Homo sapiens: one gene and its partner. The protein of the gene in region 2 purifies or fractionates together with the protein of the main gene of each other region. This does not show direct contact. Each region holds a gene or a part of one and is shown on either strand. Other genes may lie near its edges.

Evidence for each region.
Region 1: the proteins of ATOX1 (region 2) and ABAT fractionate together in Homo sapiens (co-fractionation; one large-scale study listed by BioGRID). This does not show direct contact.

The regions. Positions count from the first base shown.
Region 1 is NC_000016.10:8,775,305-8,779,328, reverse strand, and holds part of ABAT (4-aminobutyrate aminotransferase, mitochondrial isoform 1 precursor), read right to left. Parts: intron 2,986-4,024; coding exon 2,839-2,985; intron 1-2,838. UniProt on the Homo sapiens protein: Catalyzes the conversion of gamma-aminobutyrate and L-beta-aminoisobutyrate to succinate semialdehyde and methylmalonate semialdehyde, respectively. Can also convert delta-aminovalerate and beta-alanine.
Region 2 is NC_000005.10:151,742,322-151,745,476, reverse strand, and holds the end of ATOX1 (copper transport protein ATOX1), read left to right. Parts: intron 1-2,517; 3' UTR 2,518-2,655; downstream 2,656-3,155. UniProt on the Homo sapiens protein: Binds and deliver cytosolic copper to the copper ATPase proteins. May be important in cellular antioxidant defense.

The DNA of each region.
Region 1 (4,024 bases), on a different chromosome or scaffold from region 2:
ACATTCAGGCCTGGGTTCAAAGCCCAGCTGTGCACATGTGTGTTGTGTGGAGGAAAAAAACCACCACCACCACCACCAGCAACAACAACCAAGCCCAGCTCTGTCCCTCTCACTGTATAACCTTGGGCCACTCAAGTGCCTCTGTTTACCCTGCTATAAACTGAAGGATTTAAATGCTGTTGACCCCACTGGGGCCGTGGTGAGACTTTAGCACGATAAGGTTCACATGTTAAGTCCTAAGCCTGGGGCTGGGCACTTGGTGGATGCTCCACAGATGTTAGCCATCTCCATCGTCAGCTCTTCTAGAAAGGTGGTTCTTCTGGAAGAAGAAATGCCTGTCCTCCCTCAGGGCTTTGAGACTGGGAGCTGTACTGGATTGAATAGTTTCCTCCCACTGCCCCCTAAATTCATGTTTACCTGGAACCTATGACTAGGACCTAATTTGGAAATAAGGTCTTCGCAGAAATAATTAGTTAGGTTAAAATGAAGTCTTCCTGCATTAGAATGGCCCCTAATGCAATGACTGTTTTTTGTTTTTTGTTTTTTTTTTTTGAGATGGAGTCTCACTCTGTTGCCCTGGCTGGAGTGCAGTGGCACTATCTCGGCTCACTGCATCCTCTGCCTCCCAGGTTCAAAGATTCTTGTGCTTCAGCCTCCTAAATACCTGGGATTACAGGCACCTGCCATCACACCTGGCTAACTTTTTTTTGTAGTTTTAGTAGAAACTGGTTTCACAATGTAGGCCAGGCTGGTTTCGAACTCCTGACCTCAAGTGATCCACCTGCCTTGGCCTCCCAAAGTGCTGGGATTACAGGTGTGAGCCACAGCGCCCGGCTCAATGACTGGTATCTTTATAAGAAGAAGACAATCTGGAGACAGACACAGGCACAGTGGGGAGAACACCAAGTGACGCCAGAAGCAGAGTGAAGCCTCCACACGTCAAGGAACATGAAGGATTCCCGGCAGCCACGAGAAGGTGGAGAGGGGCATGGAACAGATTCTCCCCCAGAGCCTCGAGAAGGAGCCAACTCTGCTGAAACCTTGATTTCAGACCCTGGCCTCCAAACTGTGAGAGAATAAATTCTTGTTTTAACCCACACAGTTTGTGGTGATTTTTTACAGCAGACAAGGAAACAAATGCAGGTGCCTAGTCTGGAGGACCTTGATTTCACCTTACTCTCTGCTGTCCATATGAAGGACAGCAAACAAGGGCTTGGAAAACCCCAAATAATTTCAGGGTACTGGGGGCTGAGTTGGGGGAGCAAGTCTTATTTCACGGCAGCTCATTGGTAGAAACTGGAGACATGGTCCTATTCTGGGGGTGACAGAGCCGGGCACCGTGTTAGACACTTATGTGCACAATTTGTTTCTTTTTGTGGAGTATGGGTTCTCACCATGTTGCCCGGGCTGGTCTCAAACTCAGTTGAGCTGAAGGCAATCCTCCTGCTTCTGCCTCCCTAAGTACTGGGGTTACAGGCATGAGCCCCTGTGCCTGGCAGTGGGCACATTCTTGAATCCCCTGCCAGTGAAGAAGGGCTCACTTTGGTCTACACAGATAAGGAAACTGAGGCTCAGAAGTCCTTCCAGCACTTACTCTAGCATGTTCCTTGCACTTGTCAATTGCTGGGGAGCTGGCAGTTTGAACACACCCCTCCCTCTCCCACAGAGTGTGGCCCTGGGATGGTTTAGATTAAAGTCTCTTCCATTTAGACACCCCTTTAGGCCTGCCTGCCACACTCACACACACACATCCCCACACGTCCTTACGGTTAGGAGTGACCACGTGACCAGCTCTTAATCAAGTGTTAGAAGTATTATGTGAGATTTCTGGGAAGGCTGCTAAAGACAAGAAGGGGGCCACTCTGTCCTTCCCTTCTTTTTCCTTCCTATTGCCTGGAATTGAGATGCGATGGCTGGAGCTCCAGGAGCCATTTTGGCCCATGACGAAACCTTGAGGGTAGAGAGTAATCCAGCTCCAGCAGGGGAGGGCAGTGCTGCCGAGTGGTAAGTATGCAACAGGTTGCACAAAGGCGGGAATAATGAACACACTAGAGGGGGTGAGAGAGGGAGTGCTTGGGGGACTCTCAAAGGGGGGATGTCTGAAATTGGTGTCAAAAGATAACCAGGGCCGGGCACGGTGGCCCATGCTCGTGAAATCCCAGCACTTTGGGAGGCTGAGGCAAGCGGATCACCTGAGGTCGGGGGTTCGAGACCAGCCTGGCCAACATGGTGAAACCCTGTCTCTATTCAAAATACAAAAAAATTAGTAGGGCATAACGGCACATGCCCGTAATCCCAGCTACTTGGGAGGCTGAGGCCGGAGAATCTCCTGAACCCAGGAGGCAGCGGTTGCGGTGAGCTGAGATTGCGCCACTGCACTCCAGCCTGGGTACAAAGCAAGACTTGGTCTCAAAAAATAAATAGACAAATAAAATAAAATAAAATAAATAAGAAAGATAACCAGTGCCGGCAGGCGCTGCCCAGCACTTTGGGAGGCTGAGGTGGAAGGATCGTTTGAGGCCAGGAGTTCAAGGCCGGACTGGCTAACAGAGCTTGACCATGTCTCAATATTAAAAAAATAAAAAATAAATTAAAAAAAACAACAACAAAGAAAACCAGGAGTTCAGGAATAGGGGTTGGAATGGGATGGAGGGATAGGGAGGCATCCCCTGCAGAGGACACAGCATGTGCAAAGCCCCCAAGGCTAGGAGCAGCACAGCCCGTTACGAACTGCTGGAACAGCAGGCACAACACCATGCCGAAGAGCTCCAGTGTTGCCCCGGAGGCTGCTGCGGGGAGCCATGGGTGGTGGGGGCGGGGCAGGGGAGGGGGTGTTACCTGGAGGTCCAGCAGTCCTGTGAGCAGGGCCTTCCCGGCATGGGCTGCATTATTTAGCAGGTCCTCCCGCTTGATGATGTTGATGACCTCAGCCAGCAACAGGTTCTTGGACGGGTCCCCCAGCCAGGTGTTGAAGATCCGGTAGGGCTGGAATGAGGAACGGGTGTTGGAAGGCTTCACACACATGCACACCCTGCAGGAGTCACTTACCCCAGGCGCCCCGCCTCCTCTCTTGAAGAGGAGAGAAACTAATCTAGTGGGCATCTACCAGAGGCTGGCAGGGGAACACACCCAATCTCGCTGAATTCTTCTCTACCAGAGGCTAGCAGGAGAACACACCCAATCTTGCTGAATTCTTCCAACAGCAGCCCTGCATGTAGGAACTGCTATGGGGAGGACCAAATCGTCCCATGCACTGGGAAATCCCTCAGTCCCAGGAAACCAAGACAGTCAGTTCCTTAACTCCTATAACCCTCATTTTATACAGGAGGAAGCTGAGGTTCTGGGAGGCTAAGTGATTTGTCTAAGGCAAACGTGACTTACAGATGGAGTTGGGACTGGATTGCTGGCAGTGACCCTCAAAGATCATCCACTTTACCCCTCCATGAATGATTTAGGGTGGCCATGCGGCTAACTGAAACACCCTTCCCAGCCTCCCTTATGGCTAGAAGTGGCCATGTGACTGGGTCTTAGTCAAGTATTGGAAATAGACATATTATGTGAGATTTCTAGAAAGGCTGCTAAAGACAAGAAGGGGGCCACTTTGTCCTTCCCTTCTTTTTCTTTCCTACTGCCTAGAATTGAGATGTGATGGCTGGAGCATCAGAAGCCATTTTGGACCATGAGGCAACCTTGAGGGTAGAAACTACATGTAGGAATGGTGAAAGGACGTTGGCCCCTGATGGCTGTGTGTGTGTGTGTGTGTAAATCTGTATGCACACATGGCAGTACACAGTGTAGTGGGTAAGAGTATGGGCTCTGGGTTGGAATCCTGGCTTTGTCACTTAACAGGCTGTGTGACCTTTGACAAATTACTTAACCTCTCTGTGCCTGATTCCTCATTAGTCAAATGAGGATAAAAATAACAGCTACTTGGTTAGATTGTTCTCAGGATTAAAAGTATATGAGAAATACTTAGAACTAGGCACATAGCAAATGCTCAGTCTGCTGCGGCAGCTGTCGATGA
Region 2 (3,155 bases):
CACTCCTGGCTGCCACTGCCCATGTAGTGCATTTGACTCGTGAATTACAATGATCGCCACACCTCTGATGTGGTTTGGTGCCCTGACGTGACTGAGAAAAATGAGGCCAAGAGAGGGGAAGTGATTCAACCAGAGTCCCACCCTGGTGAGTAGCAGAGGCAGGAAGAAAGTCAGATATCCTGAATCGGAGTTCTGTAACTGTTACTGGTGGCATTGTCCCTGTGAATGGGCCCACAGAGACCCCCTGGACAGAGGCTAGCCACACTGACTGGTAGGTCCTCTTTGAGGATAGCCTCCTTCCCAAAGGCATACATTTGGAACCTGAGTCATAGCAGTGTTCTGTGTATGTGGTAACATCACATGCAAGTTACAAGATGTCAGATGCATCTGTTTTCGTCATGCACTTTCCATCCATAGATAGAACCCATATTCAGGAATGAACCCAGGATGAATAATGAGGAATCTAGGATTCTAATTCCAACTTTCCTCATTTCACACTGACTTTGGGGACTTTTTACATTACAGAGATTTGGTCTTCCCATCGGTAAAATGGGGCTAAAACCTCCAACCTGCTTTCCTGCCTTGTGGGGACTGCTGTGCAATCTCTCCACATATGAAAGTTTATCCTCTAGGGAAGTAAAACATCAGCGGTTTCCAGCATGTTGAAGAACAGTGTTTCTTACATCATTCCTCCACCCCTAGGGTTTTGTAGGGAGGGTGAGTGGATGGGGCTTTGGACCCTCCATAGCTCCCAAACGGTCCTGTGTCATATTGGGCTTCCCGTAAGACTGTATTTTATAAAAACGCTCTGTAACAAGAAGGAATGGAGGCAGAGAAGGAAAAAAATACTCTTCCTGAACTAGCTATATACATGGGGAGCCCTAATGCACACATCTTGGATTAGAAACTCCAGGCCTGGGCATACGAACTTTTTTAACTAAAAAAGTAATATCTGTTGGATGTAAACCATGTGTAGCTTAATGTGTTTTTCTCATAGAAAACATGTTTTCTCATGTTATTTTATTGAGATGAAATTCACAAGACATAATAACTATTTTAACCCATTTATGCTGAATATTGCAAAGTTTTTTATGTGAAAAATCAAACCTTGGTGATGACCTTGAACAGTAGGATATAAATAACTCCTGCAAGCTTAGCGTTCCAATAATGGAACACTAGGCATAAATGGGTTAAAGTCTATCATTTAGTGGCATTTGGTGTGTTCACAATGTTGTATGACCACCATCTCTCTCTAGTTTCAAAATTTTTTCATCATCTCAGAAACACACCCTGTATCCATTAAGAAGTCACTCCCCACTACCCATCTCTCCATCCCCTGGCAGCCACTAATTTGCTTTCTGCTACTCTGGATTTGCCTACCCTGGACATGTCATATAAAAAGAATTACATTATATGTGACCTTTTTGTGTCTGCCTTTTTCCATGTAGCATAATGTTTTCAAGATTCATTCAAGTCATAGCATGTGTTGTAAATCATTCCTTCCAATACTTAATAATTTTCATGGTACTTTTAATCTACTTTAGATTTTTTATGATAGGAAGTTTCAAACATGTGTAAGTAGAGTAATAGAATGAATCCCCAAGTACCCGTCACTCAGATCCAACAGTTAGTATTTATTTCACCAAGGCCTGTTATTTTTTGATAAAAGTGCTCTGTGACAAGAAGGAATTAAGGAAGAGAAGGAAAAAAACTCTTCTGGAGCTATCTGTATCCATGTGGGGGAGCCCTAATGCACACATCTTGGATTAGAAACTCCACTGTCCTCATTGTTTCATCTGGGTGATGAAACACCCAGATTATTTTGAAGCAAATTCTAGACATCATGCCCACTCCCTCCTGCCCAGATTATTTTGAAGCAAATTCTAGACATCATGCAATCTTACCTGTACATATTTCAGTAACCATGTATTGTTTGGAAAGGCTCCTGGAAATTCAGATGCACAGTACTCAGTAAGAATCACCCAATAAGCCAGCTTTAGTCCACATGCTCAGGCAGCATGTCTTTGAAGTCTGTTTTAAGAGGCTCCTCAGTGACTGATTTGAAGCCAGGCTTGGGAACCTCAAAGATAGAGTGTTTATTGGTTTTGAAGTCACCTTGATCATCTGACTCTTGGCAGATTTATTTGCCATGATTTTGTTCATTGCCTTTCCAACCTGTAACAGGATAGAGAGTGCTGTTGACTGGGTATCCTGGCAGCCCTGGAAATTCCCCAGAAGAGGGCTTTGGCAGTGATTGGCTTAGCAAGGTTAATGCGTTCCAGCCAACCTAAGTATAACAGACTTCATGGGAGCAGTGTGCAGGGCTGGACACTGGGGCTCTAGTCCTGCTCCTGCATCTGCACCCTGCGTTTTCCACCTCACCCCTGCCTTTTAGTGCAAGACTCTTAGTGCACCCCTGCGTCACCCCTGTCTCTTAGTGCATTTATTGCCTTTGCAATGTCGCTATGTCCACACCAGATGGCACCTTTGTTCCATCTAACTTTCCATCTTTCCTAGGATGCTGATCCTCCCGCTGGCTTCCAGACAGACCTGGGACTTGGCAGTCATGCCGGGTGATGGTGTTCCTGCGGAGACCCTCAGTTGTCCTATTCCTTCCTAGCTTCCCTGCAATAAAATCAAGCTGCTTTTGTTGGAGATGTTGTCTTGCCTGGTCTTGGTGTTGCTTGCTCACATGTAGGTGGTTATGCTTACTTGGGTTGGAGTTTTGAGAGTTCCCACCTGGGAGTCAGACACCCTGTAGATTCTGATTCTTTGCTGTGTGATCTTTAGCAAATCACTTCCCCTCTCTGGGCCTCATTTTTTCCTCACCTATAAAGTGGAGGCATTGACCCAGAACAGTGATCCCCTTTCTTTTCACCAGTTTCATAGACTCTATATTTTGAAAAAATTTGTCTATCAAGTGAATTGCACAAGAGATTATCAAATGTTAAGCAAGTGGAATAGTAGGAAGAGGCTGTGGAGACAAACTGCCTGGGATAGAGTTCAAGCTCCAGTACCTCCTAGCTGGGCCACTTAACCTCTCAGTGTCCACAGACAAAATGTGATGATAGCATCTACTGCAAATGGTGGTTGTGGGGATTAAATGAAATGAAACATGTAAATTAATTACAGCAGTGATTGCTGGTTAAAAAATC